Regions from separate parts of the Homo sapiens genome. Here region 2 is linked to region 1. The links come from fine-mapping of genetic effects on gene expression. A gene starts in region 1. The other region holds a variant in brackets. All regions are shown on one strand. Distances are between the middles of the regions. Region 1 holds the start of PPP2R2D (protein phosphatase 2 regulatory subunit Bdelta). Region 2 overlaps PPP2R2D (protein phosphatase 2 regulatory subunit Bdelta).

The links.
Region 2: its variant is fine-mapped to the expression of PPP2R2D in lung (GTEx, PIP above 0.99).

Annotation. Positions count from the first base shown.
Region 1 is chr10:131,895,179-131,908,041 of GRCh38, forward strand. It overlaps PPP2R2D (protein phosphatase 2 regulatory subunit Bdelta), which reads left to right and starts at 5,830. Exons shown (of 9, transcript NM_018461.5): 1 at 5,830-5,977; 2 at 6,060-6,152. The coding sequence starts at 5,971. It also overlaps the pseudogene LOC100134362. RefSeq lists an enhancer at 5,090-5,189 and silencers at 5,430-5,939, 6,010-6,409, 6,590-6,639.
Region 2 is chr10:131,941,240-131,951,318 of GRCh38, forward strand. It overlaps PPP2R2D (protein phosphatase 2 regulatory subunit Bdelta), which reads left to right. Exons shown (of 9, transcript NM_018461.5): 6 at 2,729-2,906; 7 at 4,056-4,220; 8 at 6,291-6,552. Among named protein-coding and RNA genes, the nearest start is that of BNIP3, 36 kb to the right of the region's middle. RefSeq lists enhancers at 3,716-4,545, 7,244-7,745. The variant A/G (reference allele first, on the strand shown) is at 3,636.

The DNA of each region.
Region 1 (12,863 bases):
TCTGGCTGGACCCCAAGGAGACCAATGAACTCGCTAATGCCAACTCCCGTCAGCAGATCTGGAAGCTGATCAAAGATGGGCTGATCATCCCCAAGCCAGTGACTGTCCATTCCAGCTCGATGCCGGAAAAGCACCTTGGCCCGCCGGAAGGGCAGGCACATAGGCATAGGTAAGCAAAAGGGTACAGCCAATGCCCGAATGCCAGAGGAGGTCACGTGGATGAGGAGAATGAGGATTCCGTGCTGGCTGCTCAGAAGATACCGTGAATCGAAGAAGCCTGATCGCCGTATGTATCACAGCCTGTACCTGAAGGTGAAGGGGAATATGTTCACGAACAAGCGGATTCTCATGGAACACAGCCACAGGCTGAAGGCAGACAAGGCCTGCAAGAAGCTCCTGGCTGACTAGGCTGAGGCTCGCAGGTCTAAGACCAAGGAAGCACGCAAGCGCCGTGAAGAGCGCCTCCAAGTCAAGAAGGAGGAGATCTTCAAGACTTTGTCCAAGGAGGAAGATACCAAAAAATAAAAGCTCCCCCGTTGTCCGTACATACTGGCCTCCGTGATTACATAGATCAGCCATTAAAATAAAACAATCCTTTAAAAAAATCTGTTTTATTGAGGTATCATTCACATACAATAAAATGGGTCCACTTTAAGTGTCTTTTTCAATGAGTCTTGACAACCATTCGTGCTGCATTAACAGCTGCGGCCATCAGGATGCAGAACACTTCCATCAACCCAGGGAGTTCTTTCCCACTCTCTCCAGTCCATCCCCCACCCTCTCCAGTCAATCCCCACACTCGTGCCCCATGCCGTTTTTTTTGAGATGGAGTCTTGCTCTGTCACCAGGCTGGAGTGCAGTGGCGCGATCTCGGCTCACTGCAACCTCCGCCTCCCAGGTTAAAGCAATTCTCCTGCCTCAGCCTCCTGAGTAGCTGGGATTACAGGCGTGCGCCACCACACCTGGCTAATTTTTGTGTTTTTAGTAGAGATGGGGTTTCACCATGTTGGTCAGGCTGGTCTCAAACTCCTGACCTTGTGATCTGCCCACCTCGGCCTCCCAAAGTGCTGGGATTACAGGCGTGAGCCACCACGCCCAGCCCCTGTGCCATTTTTAAAATCACTGTAGAGCAGTCTCACCTGTTCTAGAACTTCAGGATTCTTCAGAGAAACCGTGTATGGAATGAGCTTTATTTTCAGGAACTCACTCACACAATTGTGGAGGCTGACAAGTTCAAAAACAGAGGGTGCACAGGGTGAGCAGGGCAGGCCGGCAGGCTAGCTCAGGCAAGGGCTGATACAGCAGCCTGGAGGCAGAATTTGTTCTCCAAGAAACCTCAGTATTTGTTCTGAAGGCCTTTGATTGATTGGATGAGGCTCACTCATATTATCAAGGGTAATCTCCTTTTCTCAAAGTCAACTGCCTGTGGGTGTTAACCACATCCACGAAACACCCTCGTGGCAATACTTGGCTTAGTTCTGATGAAATAACTACATACTATACCCTCGCTACATTGACACATGAGACTAAGTATGATAAAATAAAGGGGCGCATGCAGCTTGCACGCCTCCGTGTCTGGCTCCTTTCATTTTCGTAATATTTCGGGGACTCATTTGGGACTGCTGTTTGTATCAGTAGTAGCTCATGCCTTTTAGTTACTGAACAGTACTGCCTTCTATGATTACAATAGGCTAGATTCTAATACACACCAGGCATTTTCAATTCAGCTGTGAGATCTGAAAAACAATTTTAAAAAATAAAATTGCTGTCAATACTCAGAAACTTGTAAACACCAATTAGAATCCAAACAGAGAAATTCATTGAGCTATTAGGTTGGCGCAAAAGTCATTGTGGTTTAGCCAAATATTTTAAGTTTTTAGCATCATAAGAAGAATAGTTAAAAATCTCTTTTTAAAAAATAGTTAAAAATCTCTTGCTGGTCAGCTGATGCACAGTGGGACGCAGGGAAGGCAGCCCCCCAGTCTCAGGAATATGTTACTTTTGTGGCTATATCTTGTTTTTAGTTTAATTTAATGGGAGCTAATGAACCAGAAAATACATTCTAAACAAAAACTAATTATCTTGTCATCACTTCAAAAGACATATTTAACACACATTAAAGCAGTTACATAGGAACTAAGAATAAAATCCTACATCCCCCACTGGCTGAACGAACACCCCTGTGGCCAGGGGGGGCCCCAGGAAAACCTCAACACTGAGGCTATAATGGGGGATGGGAGGTCAGACAGGCCTCCTGATACCCCCGCCCTTTTGTGGTTTGGACACAACAGACCAGCGTTAACGTTAAACTAGAGACCATAAGACTGACAGAACGGACTCTGTGGCAGTAAGATGCCAAATCATAAACAGGGCCTAAGGCCGTGCGGGGGGAGGGTGAAGCCACGCACCGCACACTTACAGAGAAAACGTCGTTCCCACTGCTGTTGGGTTTTCCTTCCCTCCAGCAGCTAAATAAGCACTGGCCTTGATAGGAGCAACATTAAGCAACTGCAGCTCCACCAGCCACTAAGTGACCCCCAGCCCTGCTCCAGCAGCCGTAACTACAGCTTTCATTGGACAGAAGACTGTAACTGTCTCCTGATAAGAAACCACCGACCTTGGACTGGTTCTGGCCGGTTTACAGAGGTTGCACATCTGCATGCCTTCCTGTCCTGAAAAGACCTCTTGAGGTACAGGGCCTAGTCCTAATTTACTTATTTATTTATTTATTTATTTATTTAGAGACGGAGTCTCGCTCTGTCGCCCAGGCTGGAGTGTAACGGCACGATCTCGGCTCACTGCAACCTCTGCTTCCCAGGTTGGAGGGATTCTCCTGTCTCAGCCTCCCAAGTAGCTAGGACTACAGACATACGGGCGCCACCACGCCCAGCTAATTTTTGTATTTTTAGTAGACAGGGGGTTTCGCCATGTTAGCCAGGCTGATCTCGAACTCCTGACCTCAGGTAACCTGCCAGACTTGGCCTCCCAAAGTGCTGGGATTACAGTCGTAATATATTCAAATGTTTAGTCTCCCCGACAGAGTGAGATTGGGTCCTATGTTACATAATACACGTGTCAGGAGCCCCTTCCTGAGTATTCATAGCTCCTCCCAAAGCCTGTTGTCTATGTATGTTTAGCCAACCCGTTCAGCATAGAGCTCCTGCCCCAACTCCTCCTCCTACGAAGAGCCATCTCCCATCTTGGCCTGGGGGATGGCCACCTTGCTGGCTGTAACCATTTATAAGAAATAAAGTTCCTCTTTTTCTAAATTTATAAATTGTCAGGTTTTTAAGTTAACAAATAAAAGAGATCTGGTCATTAATTCAGGTTTTCAAGTGTCTTCCTGGGCAGATAGGCTAAATCTACATTTTAAAAACAAGATTACAGCCCCATTTTTCTGCTCTTCTTCTCCTCAACAGAGAAGTAGGTATTCACTGCCTCTAGTTCCTCTCCTGCCACTGTCCCCAGAGCCCTCTGCAAACTTGTGATCTGAGTCCATTCCATAGCCACCGCTCCGTCCAAGTCAGTAATGGCCTCCCAGTCCCTACAACCAAATGGTCACTCCTGTATACTCATCACATAGCATCACAGAGCAGCCACTCCCTCCTGTCTTCAGTGGATCCTGGAGATGGGTTCTCCAGGAGCCCACCTCGCAGGCTGCTCACTCATCCTCCACGTCCTCACCCCTTCAGGGCTCTGTCCTTGGTCCTGTCCCCCATCTGTCCTCCCTCCTGAGGTGACCTCACCCAGTTTCCTGACTTGAAATGACCTCTAAATGCTCTCACCTTGATGCTCTGGCTCTGACTTCCCTGTGTGCTCCCAGCCTGTCTGTGCAACAGCACTATGTGTTGACAGCGAACCTCTGGTCGGGCTGCACCGCCCCCACCCAGCTGTGCCTTCTGCTGCAGAAACTCCATCCTTCCAGGTGCTCAGACCACCCGAGAGCAGGCATTCCTAAGTCCCTGCTTTCTCTCACACCGCATCTTTTCCATCAGCAAATCCCAGGGGCTCTGCTGTCGAAGCACTTTTCTCTGAAATCTGACTGGTTCTCACCACCCCACCCCATGTTCACCACTCTATCCTCATCCCCATGCCTGGTCAGCCCAGCTGGCCACCTGATTGGTCTCCCTGCTTCCCCTCTTTGGGTCCCCACAAGCTATTCTCAGCAGAGCATCCAAAAGCCCAAGTCCATCACGATCGTCTTCTGTTCATGAGCCCATCTCATTCAGAGTCCAAGTCCCCTAAATGGCCTGCCCACTGTCCATCCTCCTCCACTTACCTCCCTGCCTTGACTCCAACCCCTGGCCTCCCCTCCACTCACTCTGCACCCACGCAGCTTCTGGCTGCCTCCTGCCCATGCCAGGCATGGCCCTCCTTCCTGTCCTGGCACTTGGTGGTCTCCCCTTCCTGGCCAAGCTTTCCTAGACGTCTGCATGGTTTGCTCTTTATCCTTGAGTCTTCTCCAGTCACCCCGTGCAAGACTCCAACTCTCCCCATACACATTTCCTTCTTCCCTGATTTTTCTCTCCAGCTCCGACTTATTATGTATTTATTTCCTTATTGTCTGTCTCCCCCACTGAAAGGTAAGCTCTACCAGGGCTGAGATTTCTCTGCTCTGTTAACCTCTCACCCCCAGGGCTGTGGAGTGTGCCGCACGTGGCAGGAGCTGTCAATAAATAATATTAATGGAGTGGACGAATGTTCCTGATTTGCAGCGACTGTCTTTTAGTGGTGCAATACCATCAGTGCCCACCGCAGCTACCCTGAAAGAAGTTCTGATTCCGGACATCAATCCCATAGGGACAGTCCCCCTGATGATAGCTCGACTTCAGATTTTTCAACTTTACGACGGGTAGATTGGGTATTAGATGCATTTTTGACTTAGGAAGGGCTTATTTGCGGGGAGGGTAGCCCCACTGTAAGTCGAGGAGCACCCATGATCGCTCAGTATGCCAGAGAAAACCACCCGCAAATGAAACGATCGGCCCTGTTTCCCTAAGACTGCACTGGGAGCTCCAAGAACCCCTAAGGTAGCCATCTGGTGAGCAACGGTGCGCTCCGAAAGGGAGGTGGACAGGATTGGGAGACCGAGGCCGGCAGATGGCTCGAGCCCAGGAGTTCGAGACCAGCCTGAGCAACATAGACCCCCGTCTCTACAAAAAATTTAAAAATCAGCGAGCCTGGCGGCGCGTGCCTGTGCTCGCAGCTACTTCCGAGGCTGAAGCAGTAGGATGGATTGAGCCCAGGAGGTCGAGGCTTTTAGGGAGTCGAGATCGCGCCCCCGCACTCCAGCCCGGGGAACAGAGCGAGACTCCGCGTCGGGGGCAGTGGGCGGGAGGCAGCGCTCAGGTACGGCGCGCTCAGGTGAGGCCGGCCCACATGCCCGCCCACCGCCGCCAAGCGCGTCCTCCATTGGCGGTTCCACGGAGAACCCACGTTTCCATTGGCCGATGCGGGATGGGGGCGTGTCCGGCCAAGCGGCGCCCTGAAGGCGTGTCCGGCCGCAGCTTAGGCTCTCCGGGAGTCCCCGGAGAGTAGGGGCGGCCGGCGGCGCTAGTCTTCTGGGGAGCGCCGGGTGCACACCGGACCACTGCGGGAGGCCTAGGGCCGAGGGCCGAGGAGCTGGCCTGCGCCCGGCGACCCCGGCTTCCCTCCGCAGTCGCCCAGGCGTCCCTTCCCCCCTACAGCCGAGCGGCGCCGGGCGCAGGCGCATTGGGCGCCCCCGGCAGCCCCCGCGGCCCGCCCCGTCCGCTGCCCGTCCGAGGAGGCGGAGGGCGATGACGTCATCGAGCGGGGCGACGGGCATTGGGCGCCATTTTGAAAAGGGAAAAAAATCCCTCCCCGGCGGCGGCGGCGGCGGCGGCGGCGCCGGCGGTGGTGGCGGCCCCGGGGCTGAGCGCTCGGCTGCAGCGGCGCGGAGGCCGTCTCCCTGGTCTGCCGCGGTCCCCGCCCGTCCCGCCGCCGGCTGCCATGGCAGGTGAGGGGTCTGCGCGGGCCGGCGGGGACCACGGGGGCGGGCGGGGGCCGCGGCCGGCCTGACCGCCCCGTTGTGTTTGCAGGAGCCGGAGGCGGCGGCTGCCCCGCGGGCGGCAACGACTTCCAGTGGTGCTTCTCGCAGGTCAAGGGGGCCATCGACGAGGACGTGGCCGAAGGTGAGCCCCGCGCCGCGCCCCGCCCCGGGACCCTCGCGGACAGCTCCCAGCCCGGCCGCGCGCGGCCTCCGGGCCCCAAGCGTCCGTGGAAGGCAGGCAGGAGGATGGGGGCCGGGCGGGGCAGGGGCCAGGGGCCGAGCTGGGGGCCGTGATCGGGGGGCGGCCGTCCTCTGTCCGCTGTCCCGGCCCGCGGGGCACGGGCGGAGGCGTCGGGCCCGCGGCGGGACTTATGTAAGTCACCAAGGTCACGGGCGGCCGGGTCCTCCGAACCCAGCGCCTGGGGCTGCCTCCTGCCCGGGGCGGAACCGAAGCCCGGGGCTGCCTCCTGCCTGGGGCGGAACTGAGGAGACCGCGGCGGAGCCGGGGACGGGAACGGAGTCCATATCGTGCGCTCGGGCAGCGCGGCACAATGGCCCAGAGGCTGGGAACGCGCCTAGGGCTGGGTCGGGGCCTCGGCCCCCACCAGGCTCTGCGTTTCATCGGCGGTGCGCTCTTGAGCGAGCTGGTTGCCTCGGCTCCCTGATTCTTAAGGTCTGCTTTCTGCGGTTCTAAAATCCTTGAATTTTACTGTGAGGTACTGCTACTTTCTCTACTGATATATTTTAAGGTCTCTATTCCAGATTTTAGTCTTGAACTTCATGGTATTACTTGAAGTTCACTGGTCTTTTCCTTAAATCATACTCTCAAATTGGCCCAGGCACAAAGTTTTAGGGTGGTGGGAGGGAACTGGGAAGTGCCTCCCACCCCAGCTTCCCATGAAGCTTACCTGTCACCTTAAAGTTAAAAAGCTATGTAGCTTTCCTTTTTCACCGTTGAATGGAGAACTTGGTCGAGTCTTAGAAGTTTGATTAATATTTCAGATTCAGAGTCATAGTGACTTTTTTGTTGTTGTTCATACATCTTACTGAACATTGTAAACCTTTAACCTTTTCTTAAAAATGATTGGTGTTTGCACCAAATACACCTTCCCTGCCTCAAGTTACTAAAAGCCCCTTGTCAGACGTCCTGTTCACTTCCCTCCATCTCGGCCCCCCCAACCCCGTGAACTTTTACTCCCTCTTCCCTACCCTGTACCTCTCCCTGGCAGTGTCTGGTTTGGCACATGACCCCTGAGGACATCTGGAGATTCTGCGCCCCCTGGGACAAACAGGGCCTAGGTTATTAAGCAGGTGAAACTGGGCTCTAAGAAATGCGTAATATATATGGTTTGAGATTAAAACTAGGTGCATTTTATGTGATCTAAAAAGTTTATTGATTTTATTTCTTTAAAATGCATTACTTTTTTTGTTTGATTTTGCATATGCTAAGCAAGTGACAGTTCAGCCTTACTCAAGTGTGATTTCTGTCGCAAGTAAAGCAAAACTTGTTTGGGAGTAGGAAAGTGAGAGGGCTTAATGCTTGCCTTAATTTCTGTTAACTCTTTATTTTGTTTTTTGGAGACAGGGTCTCACTTTGTAGCCCAGGCTGGATGGAGTGCAGTGGTGCGATCTGGGCTCACTGCAACCTCTGCCTCCTAGGCTCAAGCGATTCGCCCACCTCAGTCTCTGAAGTAGCTAGGACCACACACACGCGTGCACCACCACACCAGGCTAATTTTTGTATTGTTGTAGGGGATTTCGCCATGTTGCCCAGGCTGGTCTTGAACTCCTGGGCTCAAGTGGTCTGCCCACGTCAGTCTCCCAAGGTGCTGAGATTATAGGCGTGAGCCACCGCACCTGCCTGGTTTCTTTACTTAAAAAAAAAAAAATTATTGATAAGCTGAATGAATTAAAATTTAAGTATAACTAAGGTAGTATATTTTAAATGTGACTGTACACATATGAAAATAGTATTCTTTCTTTAAAAAAAATCTTGGGCCGGGTGTTGTGGCTCATGCCTATAATTCCAGCACTTTGGGAGGCCAAGGTGGACAGATCACTTGAGGTCAGGAGTTTGAGACCAGCCTGGCCAACACAGTGAAACCCCGTCTCTGCTAAAAATACAGAAGTTAGCCGGGCGTGGTGGCACATGCATGTAATCCCAGCTACCTGGGAGGCTGAGGCAGGAGAATCACTTGAACCCGGGTGGTGGAGGTTGCAGTGAGTGGAGATCGTGCCATTGCCCTCCAGCCTGGACAATAGAACAAGGCTCCATCTCAAAAAAAAAAAAAAAAAAAAAAAATCTTGACAAATACTTTGTTCTCTGAATTAAACTGATGGGAACTTTTTGCAGTTTTAAATCCCTATTTTAAGTTAAATTTTGAGTAAATCCAAAAGTTTGGTATTTCGAGTTGTCGTGGTTTCTTTTGTAACATTGCTTTGTGGTAATTATCTGCATGTGTTTTGGTTATTCTGTGTATTCAGAGCTGTCTATTTTAATCCATGTATGCTTTGGCCATAGTAACCCATCCAGATTAACACATTTATAAGTCACCATCGATTTGTCCCATAGTTGTGATACCGTTGCTTTGTATTAACACCAGAGAGTCAGTGATGATGAAGGGAAGTGTAGTCGTTAGTCACCAGGGATTGCTGAGCAGCAAGGATCAAGAAGCTGGTCATGCCCAAACGCAACCTTGAGGGAGAGATGTTGGTGAGAGATAAGAGATGGGTGGCTGGGTACGGTGACTCACACCTGTAACCCCAGCACTCTGGGAGGCTGAGGCGGGTGGATCACTTGAGGTCAGGAGTTTGAGACTAGCCTGGCCAATATGGCGAAACCCCATCTCTACTAAAAATACAAAAATTAGCCAGGCGTGGCAGGGCCGGCCTGTAATTCCAGCTCCTCAGGAGACTGAGACAGGAGGATTGCTTAAACCTGGGAGGTGGAGGTTGCAGTGAGGCGAGATGGTGCCATTGCACTCCAGCCTGGGCGTCAGAGCGAGACTCCGTCTCAAAAAAAAAAAAAAAAGGAGAGAGATGGCCGGGCGCAGTGGCTCACGCTTGTAATCCCAGCACTTTGGGAGGCCGAGGCAGGCAGATCACAAGGTCAGGAGATCGAGACCATCCTGGCTAACACGGTGAAACCCCGTCTCTACTAAAAATACAAAAATTAGCCGGGTGTGATGGCGGGCGCCTGCAGTCCCAGCTACTTGGGAGGCTGAGGCAGGAGAATGGCATGAACCCGGGAGGCAGAGCTTGCAGTGAGCCGAGATCGTGCCACTGCACTCCAGCCTGGGCGACAGAGCAAGACTTTGTCTCAAAAAAAAAAAGAGAGATGGGCAGTTCACAGGGGTTTTTATCGTGCACTGCTGCTCAGGCTGTAGAACTTAAGGTATAGCAGATTTTGTTTGTTTAGATTTGTGGCTTGTGAGGCATTTTGTTCTTGAAGGTTTTGTTCTGGGCCAAGTTCAGCTCTGTAGAGCTTTACTACAGCCCTGCACTCTGGCCGTCTTTCTGCCCTCTCTGCAATGGGTAAGGAGAAGGAGCCTTAGAGATTAAGGCCTGGGTCCTCTCCTGACTTCAGTGGGGTGATGCCCAGTGCACAGGAAGTGGTGCAGGGCTAGGAGTAGGCACTCCTGACTTTGGAGGTCATGAAGTGAGTGACATAGAAAAGCCTTTGGTTTTTGTTTTGATTTCTGTTTTGTTTTTAAAACTAATAGTTTTGGGCTGGGGAATCAGAATCAACCTATGGTGAAAGTGCTGGCCTATGTAAAATTTGATGCGCACCCCACCCCCCTTTTTTTTTTAAAAGAATTGGGTTTAGCTATGGGTCAGGTCATTTTGCTAAGAGTTGTGATTCCACTGGGTCATCAGACTTCCCATCCCCCTGCAGGTAGGAGTAGAGCTGAGCTCACAAGGAAGTTATTAAGTGTCCTGCTGATGAGCAGGTGTATAAGCAGCAGTCAGTGGTGACTTGCATCTCCTCCCTTTGCTGGAAGGTGGGACTAGGTGAGTTTATATGCTGAGTTGACCAAGAGTTAAAATAGTAAAACCAGGGGGCTTCCAGCAGGAAGCAAGTAGAAAAGTTGTTTGTTAGCTTCTAATTCCACGATGTTGCGGTTCTAAACGGTGGCTCCTTTCTGGAAATTGTTAACTGTTGTGCAGATTTTTTCTGCATGTTATGGAATCACCTTCACCCAGCCCCTGCTCCCTCTCCTGGAACGTACTTCATTCAGCATGTGATGTGTTTTGCAATGTCACATGGTATTTCATCCTTTGCTTCTCTCTCTGGTAGACTGAGCTCCTCAAGCTTGAAGGCTGGCTGTCCCCCTTCCCACCCCAGCCCTTGTAGAGGACCCAGCACGAAGGTCATGATAGGTAACAGTTGCTGAGTGGTCATTCTGTGCTAGAGATTGCTCGCAGTGCTTTTCCTATGTCAGTGAATCTTCACACCACCGAAGAAGGAAGGAAATACTGTTCTTCCCAGTCTCAGATGCAGAATCCGAGGCGTGGGAGCAATTAACCTGGGTCACAAAGCGAGTGTATGGCAGGGCCAGGGTTTGGAGCCACGCCGACTGGCCGCAGAGCCGTGGAGCGCTGTACTGCTTCAGCGACCATTTGCAGCCAGCACAGTACTGATGAAGCCCCACTGTGGCATGCGGCCGTCCAGCCTTGGGATGGAGCTGTTCTTCTAAAGCTCGGTGAAAATCTTACTACCAAGAGGCGTGTGAAAATGCTTTTGAAGGCAAATGAAAATGGAATGCCTTTAAAGGAAGTCTGTGTCAAAATGATAGAAGATTAGTAACAAGGATTCAAGAATAGCATCACTTTCCAACCAATTCTCAAACTATTTGAAGAGTAGATACCACAGAGACAGTAAGTAAGTGAAACACCTGCACGTCAAGCAAGTGCTGCAGCACCTTTGCCTGTGATGTCACTTTCCACATGACTGCAACCTGCTTACCTGCAGGGAAGCTATGGGTCTTGCTCCTTTATATATTACACTAATTGCTCCTATGGAGAAACCGTGGGGAGGGGTTGGGGGAGGAGGGTCTTATATTGAACCTGGTTTTATATAGCTTTATAGCTTGATAACAGCTGGTTCCTTTCTTCTCAGAATTTGTAGTTTTAAGTGTATTGGGGTTTTATTTGTTGATTTTGCTTTAATCAGTTTCTTAATCCATGATCTGTTGCTTTGAATTAGACATTAACCTGTTTCTAAAGAGATAGACTAAACAAAACTAAAGGTTTGTTTGCTTAAGTCAAGCTTGAGTCTGGGGAGTTATGTAAGTAACATAGATATCTGGTTAATCTGGTAGGATAGCCTTTCCAAGGGAGTTTACATTGGTACTTTGAAAGAAACATTTTAAGTCGCAGAAAGGTAACAAAAATTAAGTTAACTGTAGCATCAGCACCAGAAAGTTACTGTTTCATTGAATGTAAGATAATGTCTGGCTCGGTGGCTCACGCCTGTAGTCTCAGCACTTCAGGAGGCCAAGATGGCAGGATCCCTTGAGCCCAGCAATTTGAGACCAGCCTGGGCAACATAGTGAGATCTTGTCTCTACCAAAAAAAAAAAAAAAAGAAAGAAATTCGGGACGTTTGCCAGGTATGGTAGTACACACCTGTAGTCCCAGCTACTCAGGAGGCTGAGGTGGGGGCATCGCTTGAGCCAGGGAGGTTGAGGCTGCAATGAGCTATGATTGCACCACTGCACTCCAGCCTGGGCAATAGAGTGAGACCTTGTCTCAGAAAAAAGAAAAAATAATAATAATTATATATGTATATATATAATCTTTGAAATTAGGTGTGTCTTTTATATATAATCTCCTATAATGTCTTTTATATGTATATATAAAATCTACATCTAATTTCAGAGATACTAAGATGTGGGGAAATGTACTTAGAATCAATGAAATACGGTGTTGGTGAATGCAAAACTTGTCAGTCATATTTATTGATTTCTTCTGTGTACAGATAATGGGCATTTGGTATTTATTCATTTATATTTTTTTTTTGGTCTTAATGGGACATGGTGTCTGCTTATTTGAATTATTTCCGGTCTGATTTCTATATTCCATTGTAGAATTTTCATTTACTTAATATTTATATCTGTGCCATTGAAGAGAACCTTCAGGAAAGCATCCTCTGGGGAAGGCCATCAAACAAGCAAACAGTCTAGTAATATTTTGCAGTTTGACTTATGAGAGCTTCATAGGAAGCCTCTGCCTTTAGGAAGTCAGTTGTATGCCTTAAGATTCACAGACTCGCCGGGCGCAGTGGTTCACGCCTGTAATCCCAGCACTTTGGGAGGCCGAGGCGGGCGGATCACGAGGTCAGGAGATCGAGACCATCCTGGCTAACAGGGTGAAACCCCGTCTCTACTAAAAAAAATACAAAAAATCAGCTGGGTGTGGTCGCGGGCACCTGTAGTCCCAGCTACTGGGGAGGCTGAGGCAGGAGAATGGCATGAACCCAGGAGGCGGAGCTTGCAGTGAGCGGAGATCACGCCACTGCACCTCCAGCCTGGGCAGCAGAGCGAGACTCCATATCAAAAAAAAAAAAAAAAGATTCACAGACTCATCATGCTTAGTACAGCCACATCTTAACGCTCAGGAGGCTGGCCTGGTCATCGTTACATCGTGAAGTTAAGTTTACAAGATATGTGGTGGTATTGAATCATACCTGGTGATTTTCCACGTTCCCTGATTTTAAGCAGTCTGCTGTTCTGATGGGAAGTTCCAGGTTGGGTTTGTGTCTGCTGTTTTCAACTCTGAGGGCCCCTTTCTGAGCTTCAGCTCGCTTATCTAGAAGTTAAATCAGAAGCTTTTTGTTAAGATCAAACAATGTG
Region 2 (10,079 bases), 45 kb after region 1:
AAATGATCATATTTCATCAATTCTGATGCCTAAATTTTTTCATATTTTAACATTTATGAAACCGGCTAAAACTCAAAACCTCAATGTCTTATAATTGGCCTGGTGCTACGCACCACTGATGTTGTCTTAAATTAGATGGAACATGGTGAAGGGTGTCCGGCAAACTGGGCTCGAGCCCAGGTGTGTCTTGGTGAGAAACCAGCACCTGTGCAGAGGTGTGTCCCCTGGAAGGAAACTCTGCCTGGTCCCAAGGGGGTGCCGTTACTAGATTGGAAAACCGTTGGTTGTTTGGGTGGTTGGGTGGTTTGGTTGCGGGGGGTGGGTGGTTGAGTTGGGTGGTTTGGTTGGTTTTTAATGAGATTTCAGCCCCTTTTACACTATTGTTTATCAAGTGAAGACTGAGTGAGTGAGCCCATTCCACATTAGTCTTGGAGAGTGCTACAGAGGACGCTGTACCGCAGAAGCCTTTCCCTAACACATGTGCCTCTGGGAGTGATGTTGGGTCTGTTCTGATGCCATTTCTCCAGCTTTGCCGTGTGGGGTGGCTACACCTGGGGTTGTGCATTCCTCAGGAGGAGTGTCCTCAGACTTCTCACATCGATGTTGTCACCGTATTTCCTATGAGTTCATCAAAGCGAGAAAGGCTGTGGCATTTGCTGAAAATCTAGTTTATAGGGTCCTAATTTGAACCAAGATGTTTTGATCCAAAATGTTGGTGATGTCTGATACACAGTGCTGCCGCCTTTGCACCCCTGAATTAGTGTAAATCACTTTTAGTGACAGTAACACGAGTTGTGCAGTTCCATCATCATGAAACTGCTGATCCTAAAGTAGAAGTGTGATGGGACCCCCGAGGGTGGGCACTTGACCCCCTCCAGCCTTGTCCATCTCTTCTGCAGCCAACACCACCTCCCACCCAGTTACCTGTGCACACCCCACCCTCAGAAACCCCTGTTCCTCCTGATCAGACCCTGCCACAACCCATCAGCTCACGTGCTCATTTTGGGAGAACAGTAGGCCTTTACTAGGCCCAGTCTTGGTTTTATTCAAGGCTGCTTTTGTAGGTTTAGCCTAAATAAAACGGGTATAATTGGTGGCCCTACTGAAGGTGTGTGAGAAGTCTAGTTATTTCATTAGTTGGTGCATGGGGAAGAGACCACAGACAGGTAATTCTGTACATTGACTTAGGTCGGTATTTGAGATCTTACCTCTCTAACAGTTCAGAGTGGGCTATTTATGTATCTGAGCCTAACTGGGTAAGAGTCAGACATGTTGCTGTTTTTAAATTTTTGCTCTTAAATTATTTTAGTGCCAGAAAAGGGATATAATTAAAAGAAGAAATCTTGGCCAGGTATGGTGGCTCATACCTGTAATCCCAGCACTTTGGGAGACCGAGATGGGAGGATCACTTGAGCCCAGGAGTTCAAAGACCAGCCTGGGCAACATAGCCAGACCCCATCTCTAAAAATGAAAGCAAATTATTTTATATGCAAATTAAAATGTTTTCAATAAAAGAAGGAATCTTTGTAAGTATTGCAGCTATCATATGTTTTGATTAATGGGAAATTTGTTAGAGGATTGGGGTAGGTGTGTGTTTTTAAGCCTGAACTTGGTAGAACTGACTCTTCTTGCTCTAGAGAATCCAAGGGTGTGGTCAGCACTACCTGGGTTAAAATGAGGGAAGCCTCCCTACACACACTTTTCCAAGTTGGTTTTTTACAGAATTCAGCCAGACAAGACTCAGTTGAGAGCTTTTCTTTTTCCCCTAAGCTTTCAAGGCTCTCCCTTTTGGTTTCTAATTACAAGAATAACAAAAAATACTATCATTAATTTTTTGTTTTGATTTTAAAGCTTATGTTTTTCTTCCAGCTGGATGTTAGTGAGACACAGGCCTTTTTCCTTTTTTCATGTGTGATGCTATTCCTCACGCCTGAGCTCTCACCTCTGACCATAGGCGGCCTGCAGCCAGCGCCCACTCCTCTCTGTCCTTTCTATTTCTGTGCGAATTGGGCTTCCCTAGGAAGCCTCCCTGACCACAGCACTCAACACAGAGATGGGGGCGGGAGGTACCTTCTACTTTTTGTTTTAACCTCAAGTGAAGTGTAATATATAATACATACCTCCAGATAAGACATCTGCCCTATAAGTGACCAGCTCCATGAATGTTTGTAGGGTGCACATGCCCATGTAGCCAGCCCCAGACCAAGAAATGGAATATCCTCAGCTCCCCAGCACCCTGCTGTGCACCCTGCCAGTACCTGGAGCCAGTGGAGGTTTGTGGGGTTTGCACCGAGAAGCATAGTCCTAGTGCAGTGAGAAGAGGTGTGTGCATCTAGCTGCAAGGAGAGGACAAAGGGAGGGGTGCAGCTGAGCCACCCAGGAGGACTTTGCTGTCCAGCGCCTCAGTGTGGCCACTGGAGGACACACAGGAGAGGGAGCCGCAGGCCTCGGTGCCTGGGCAGTTTGTTACCCTGCCAGCTGATCTTCTCTTCAGCAGGAACATGTCGACCTCGGTAATGGAAGCAAGGGGAAGACTTGGAATAGACAGTATTCCATTTTGTAGCATATTTTCATAACTCTGCTAATTGGTTATTTGGGGGTATTGCCTGTACAGAATTATTACTTAGCCATGAATATAAACTTGTCCTCTTTCGTTATCTACTATAAGTGTTCTAATTATGTGCTGCTGTGATCTTTGTTTTGAATTCCTATTTCCTTCCATTTTTAGGTCCCAATATTGAAGCCCATGGATCTTATGGTAGAAGCGAGTCCACGGCGAATTTTTGCAAATGCTCACACATATCATATAAATTCCATTTCAGTAAATAGTGATCATGAAACATATCTTTCTGCAGATGACCTGAGAATTAATTTATGGCACTTAGAAATCACAGATAGAAGCTTTAGTATCCTTCCTCAGAGGGACACTGGCGTCTTCCCGAGGGTGCTCTTTAGATAGTAATTTCTCTCGTCCCTTTATACACCTGTATCTCGGAGTCTAGTCTTGTAAATACCATCACTGCACAGCAGCCTGTGATGTAAGTTCTCTGTGATTTGAAATGTTTGTCCCTAAAAATACAAATTTCTTTCTACCTTTGGGAAAAAGTTATCTGTATAATGGGAATTACCTGAAGTCCACTGCCTGCCTGGTTTAATCAGAGGCAGTTTTAAATAGGCTACATTTGAAAAACCAACATTATGTGTTCTTTTTTTTTTTCTAAATTTGCTAATGAATAATAGAAAATACTGGCTTAGGTTAGAGCAGTGTTTAATCACCCATCTGAGCAGCAGCTTCCAGTTAGAACCTGTGTTCTTCTGTGGCTGTGCACAGTCTGGGTGGCCCCAGCCCTCCTCACATGGGCCCCTTTCCAGCCAGCAGCCGGGAGCATGGGGCTTGCTTCGTCTGCAGCCTCTCCAGGGTCCCTGCCGTCCTCCCTCTGCTGTCCAGTGGCTTGAGCTGGGGTTCCATGTCGTATGTTGGTTTTCTTAGTTGTTTCAGCTTGAAGGGTGAAACTGGGACTGCTAGTCTGAATTGGCCCACAGCTGAATTCTGCCCTTTCTTATTTTTTTCAGTTGAAGGATTTCTGTATAGGATTTCTGTTGGATCTGTTCTAGCTACACAGAATAAGCTCTTC[A/G]TGTCAGGAAGAGCAGCATCTTTTGGAATTTGGCGGCATTCTTGTGTTGTAGTTTTGTGTGGGAGTGTGGGATTTTGCACAGATGGTACTAGCTTGGTTTTCCTATTTATATGATTAAGTATGTACTATCTTGCTATTAAGGGCTTTCTGTATAACATTAATAATAGCAGCAAGATGAAAGCGGTGTTCGCTTGTCTGTGTCTCCCCCTGGGCCGGGGCGTTGCTGTAGTCTGAGTGTGCTCATCCCAATCCCCTTACCAGGCGCTCCTTTGGAATTCGGGATGTGTAACCAGCCTTCTTAATAGCTAATCCCTTAAACCTCACTGCGTGGATTATTTGGCGTCCTATTTCGCGTGACTGAATGTAGACTAATTAACAACCAGCTGAGCTGAGCACTGTGCCTTAACCATGCACTCCCAGACATCGTGGACATCAAGCCTGCTAACATGGAGGAGCTGACCGAAGTCATCACTGCAGCCGAGTTCCACCCGCACCAGTGCAACGTGTTCGTCTACAGCAGTAGCAAAGGGACCATCCGCCTGTGTGACATGCGCTCCTCGGCCCTGTGCGACAGACACTCCAAGTGTAAGTGCGTCTGTTGTTGAGATGGAGTCTGGCTCTGTCACCCAGGCTGCGGTGCAGTGACACAGTCTCGGCTCACGGCAAGCTCCGCCTCCCGGGTTCCAGCAAGTCTTCTGCCTCGGCCTCCCGAGTAGCTGGGACCACAGGCAGGTGCCACCATGCCCAGCTAGTTTTTGTATTTTTAGTACAGACAGGGTTTCACCATGTTGACCAGACTGGTCTGACCTCAGGTGATCCCCCTACCTCGGCCTCCCAAAGTGCTGGGATTACAGGTGTGAGTCACCGCACCTGGTCACGCCTGGCGTCTTTTAAAGCATCTCATTTAGAGCCACTTGTTCTTCAGACACTCCAAAGACTTAGAGAGTTCTTCCTGTTCCCCAAGTGCCTTTGCACAACTGGGGAGCCCTCCTTTGCTGGGGCCGTCCGAGTGTGGCTGTGTCAGAGGCTGCTGCTAATAAGTGGAACTCGAGGTCATGCTTCCCACAGGCTTATGGCTGTAGGGTGAGTGTGCTTTTGGCACCACCGAGAAGCGGGGTCACTTCTGCCCAGAGCCTGGGTGTCTCCTCAGAGGCTGCCAGCACTGAGTCCCGCCAAGAGCCACCCGTTGCCTCTGCCTCTGTGCGTGAGACCTGGGCTGAGGCCGCCAGCACACAGGAGGCCATTCCCAGCTGTTGGAATGAGCTCCTGTTCATGTTGAGCTTGGCTGGATTGGAAGCCACTTCCCTTAGCTGAAAGTCTAGCATTTTAATCCAGTGAGCTTTCAAGCTCCTTTTAGGTGAGGGAGGTTCTGGTTTTGTTTTTATTTTTAGCCATAAAGAATGGGCTTGACTTTATAGAGCACTGTAGTCAGCGTGTCCCAGTGTCCTGAAACATTGCTGACCCTTCCTCCAGTGCCAGCAGGTAGACACACGTCCAGTGACTTCCTCTGATGGGGAAGCCGCCAGTCAATCCCACCAGACTGAGCCGCTGCTCATGTGCAGCGGCGCCCCCAGTGCCTCGGTGGAATGTGCCCATGGACCGTGTGCAGCAGCCTTTTCGCCTGTTCTCTTTCCTGAGGTTGAGTGTGTTTTTAAGAATTCGTATTTCTACTAGAATTCCTGCGATGAGGATGAGTGTTTCGTAGCATTTGGCCTGTATCTTAAGCATAAAATTCTTGAGTAAATAATTTCAGATTCCAGTTCTATTTGTCATCAGAGTGATTTATTTGAGTAAATGCTTGGCGTCGGCACAGCTGGCTTCAAGTTAATTTCAGATGCTAAGCCGACAAACACAGGCTCCTGCATCAAGAAAAAAGAGAAAAAACCTAAAGCAGCTTCAGGTCAAGGAAGCACAAGCCAGGTGCAGTGGTGCTCACCTGTGGTCCCAGCTACCCTGGAGGTTGAGGCGGGAGGATCTTTCTGAAAATAGGAATCCAGTTTTGTCACAGTAGAGCTTGTGTATATTCAGTATTGGAGACAAACCTTGGCTGGCTGGCTTTGACCGGCGGGACCGTCTTGGTGGTTAAAATCAGGACCACAGCGTTGCCAGTCAAGGTGGTCACTCCTGCAGACCCACAAACTGTCGACCCTCCAAAAAGCAGGCAGTTTCTTAGAGGCACAGACCGCTGTGTCTGCATGACCATATAATGCTGTTTGTGTCTTCCTGTGATGTGTATGCGATAGAATTTCACGTGCTCGGGCCTGGTGCCATGAGGACGCGGAGACACTCCTACAGGAATGCGGTGGTGCTGAACCTGGGCACACATCAGGATGCCCCGAGGAGCTCCCACAGATGGCAGTGCCCAGGACCTTGCCTAGAGATTCTCATTCAGGGTCCGGGTGAGACTTGGGCGTCTACGCTTCTCATGCCCATCCCTTGTCCATAGCTGGTGCTAGAATGTCTTATCCGAAGCTCTTGCCCACGGAAGTCACAGAAGATCAGAAAACCTAGAGAATCAGAAAGATCAGAAGACCTAGTGTTGAGGCCAAGCCCTTCCAGAGTCTCTCTGAAGGGGCCACTTCCTACTTGAACTTGAAAATGATTTGTTCTCTGATTTTTAAACAGAAGCTGAAAACATTTTATTTTGTTTTTCAGTTTTTGAAGAGCCTGAAGATCCCAGCAGTAGGTCCTTCTTCTCAGAAATAATTTCATCCATATCCGATGTAAAATTCAGTCATAGTGGGCGGTACATGATGACCAGAGACTACCTGTCGGTGAAGGTGTGGGACCTCAACATGGAGAGCAGGCCGGTGGAGACCCACCAGGTCCACGAGTACCTGCGCAGCAAGCTCTGCTCTCTCTATGAGAACGACTGCATCTTTGACAAGTTTGAGTGTTGCTGGAACGGTTCGGATAGGTAAGGCCTGCGTGGAGATGAGCTGTCGCCCCAAGCTTGCTGGTTTCCGAGAGTGCAAGGTCAGTGAGGGAGGCGAGCTGTCCTCCAGCGTCAGAGGAGGACGCTCATAGGGTGTTGTTTTCCAGACCTTTTGATTGATGGATGATAGTATCAAGGTAGAGAAAATAGGATCTCTGAGCAAGTTTCTCACCTAGCTTGTCATTCCATTTATATTTAGACAAGAAGTATAGCACTAGGTACAGGCCGGCTATGTGTTAAATGCTTAGTGAATGATAGTGTATTACTTTTTATTATGCTGATAATGAGTGAAAAGGAAGGAAGTGGGGAAGTGATTCACCTCACTGGAATGACCGCGTTGCAGTCTGCCTTTCCTTCTGGAGAGAAGTAGATGAAAACACCCCAGAGCCACTGCCTGTCATGCCCAGACACAGCGTGGTCATGGCTGGTCTGAAACACCAATGTAATTTATAATGTGATGGTTCTAGTACCTTGATAATTTATTTTGTATACATTCTTTAAAGATAGCTATGATTAGTGTGGTTGAGAGTTACGTTTTTTTTATTATGCAAAAAGTTACGTTTCAGATGATGGAAGATTGTCTTGCACCATTTTTATATAGAATTTTTGTTCAGAATTCAAGAGAACAGAGGAGTCTATTGGCAATAAGTGATTGACTGGATATTCTGCAAAACCCTCTGGCATAAACACCTAGAAATGCTGGATATGATACAGCAGGTGTCTCTTCAGGTGCATAGTTGAGCTCACAGATAAGCAAGGGAAATCTCACAACGGCCAGAAACTAAGAGGGAGCTGAAACCAGAATGGCAGCCTCTGAAGGCGTCTATTCCGAGAGCAGCCTTGCAGCCCCGGCTGGCCTCAGGAGCATCAGCCCATAGCAGGAACCACTGCCCCTGTGAACAGCAGGTTATGGTGCAAAGCTGAAGCCTTGTCCCACACGAGGTGACTTGCTCATGGTGGCTTTTCCTGTATGTGCTTGGTAATTTTCAAGAGCTGAAGCCTTGGCCCACACGAGGTGTAGAGTTGGAACAGGGACCCCTGAAGATGGTGTCTCCCTCCACTGGCAGATAGGGTCCAAAGGGCAGTTTGTCTGTCTGAGGCCTTGCATGGGGGTGGCCAGCACTGCCCTGAGAAGTGGAAGCAAAACCTCCCCTCACAAGGGTTTGCAGTTTGGGTTTGTGCCAGCTACATCATGATCTGTAAAATCTCACACTGTGGAGCTCCTGCCTCCACGAGGGCTGTGTGCGGGCATCGGGAGGGACCGGCGTGTTTCCAGATCTGGCTTCTACTCTGTTTGCAGACTGACCTGCCAGCCTGTAGCATCTCACGGATGTTGACTGAAGACATGAGGTTCCCGGGTTCTCATGGCACAGCTGGCAGCATGAGCCTCTCGTTGGCCTGGGTTCCCCACGGGTGGACACTTGAGGCCGTGGCTGATGCACACTGAGCTTGGAGAACCCCACTGCTTTCACAGCGGGCAGTAAACACACCTGCACTTTGACTAGAAGAGACATGACCTCATTCCTCAAGGCCGCTTGCTGGAAGCACAGCCCTGAGAAGTGGCCCAGGTGGAGAGAATGGCATTGGCAAACTCCGTGAGAACACGCATGCTGGGTAGCTGCTGCCAGCACACCCAGGTCTCTCTGGATTTCGTCACATTAAAATCATCTAAACATGAGCTCACAGGTGAAAATTACCAAGCACATACAGGAAAAGCCACCGTGAGCAAGTCAGCAGAACCACAGCAGAACTGAACCTCCGAGAAGGCAGCTGTTGAGATCCTAAGTTAAAGAAGATAAACTAAGAATGCTTGAGATATTCACAGACTAGAGGAAGGAAACAGCCTGAACCAGGAGCCACATGACCGCTAAACGTGACCTGGAGACTGGAAAGGAATCAGAGGGAACATCTAGAAATGACAAGTATGATACATGACCGCCAAACATGACGTGGAGACTGGAAAGGAGTCAGAGAACATCTAGAAATGACAAGTATGATACATGACCGCCAAACATGACGTGGAGACTGGAAAGGAGTCAGAGAACATCTAGAAATGACAAGTATGATACATGACCGCCAAACATGACGTGGAGACTGGAAAGGAGTCAGAGAACATCTAGAAATGACAAGTATGATACATGACCGCCAAACATGACGTGGAGACTGGAAAGGAGTCAGAGAACATCTAGAAATGACAAGTATGATACATGACCGCCAAACATGACGTGGAGACTGGAAAGGAGTCAGAGAACATCTAGAAATGACAAGTATGACAGATGAAACTGTGTGGGTTTAGCAGCAGGTCCATTTTGGCTAAACAGATCTTGTATTAGTGGATGGAAAGGAAAACCAGAAGAAATGCGGGCTAAAGAGCCAAACAGAAAACAAGAGACACTAGGAACCGTGGAGGCCAGGGTGAGGCACAGCACACGTTTAAACAAAGTTTGGGGGTGTGAGGCTTAAAGTGACAGTGGCCAGCAATTTTCTCTAAATTATGAAAGCCTGAATACACAGGATCGGGAGCACAGCATCCATCCATCTCATAATGAAATTGCAGGACACCAAACGCAAAGAGAATATCTTAAATGCACCCAAGGAAAAAACGCAAATTACCTCTGAGAGCGGACACCGAGACTGAGACTCGGCTTTGCCACGGCCACAGTGGGAGCCAGAAGCCGTGTGACAGATCCAGCAAGTGTGACTCCTTACTCTCCACCGCCAGCTTAGAATCAAGCCTTGAAGTAGATGCTCGTTCAAGAATCTGCTTGTGATAAAGGCATTTTCAAATGGGAAACAATGTATCACAACAGGAAACTCAGTAGAGCGAGCTGTAAAGGGAGCCTGGCCCTGCAGAAAGGGGCTGAGACAGATAGGCAGAGGAACGCAGCCTGCAGGGAAGAGCAGTGCAAACTCTGAAGCTCTGCCACCTGGACGGCCTTAGTTATCTGTGTTTGGGGGAGAAAAATTAGAGCCCTCACCAGCCCCACACAATAAATAAATAAGCTCTGAGTGTTTCTAAGCCTAAGACATCTTTGTGAGCTCTGGAAACAAGGGCTTCTTTAAGAAGGCCCCAAAAGCCCAAGGAAAACATTAAGAAATTCAACTACATTAAATTTTAAACTTCTTTATATTGAAATTAAAAGTGAAAACAAAATCCACAAAAGGATAACGAACAGAGATTAAGTATCCAGAATAGGTGCAGAATTAGTTGTCAACAAGAAGGTGGCAAACAACTCAGAAAAGAGCAAAAACCATGAATGGGGTTTCGCAGAAATGGAAAAATAAATAGAAATGCTCATCCTTCTTAGTGATCAGCAAGTAAAGCCAGAGGGACGTCCTTTCATGCCCATCAGAATGATGATGGTTTGGGGGAGAGGGTGGAGACCAGTGGTCTTACCCAGTACCCTTCTTGTGACCTCCTTGGTGACATTCAGTCGGGTTGGGAGCTTCTTGCATGTTCAGACAAGAAAACGTGCTCAGATACCTGAAATAGCAAACAACTGGAGACA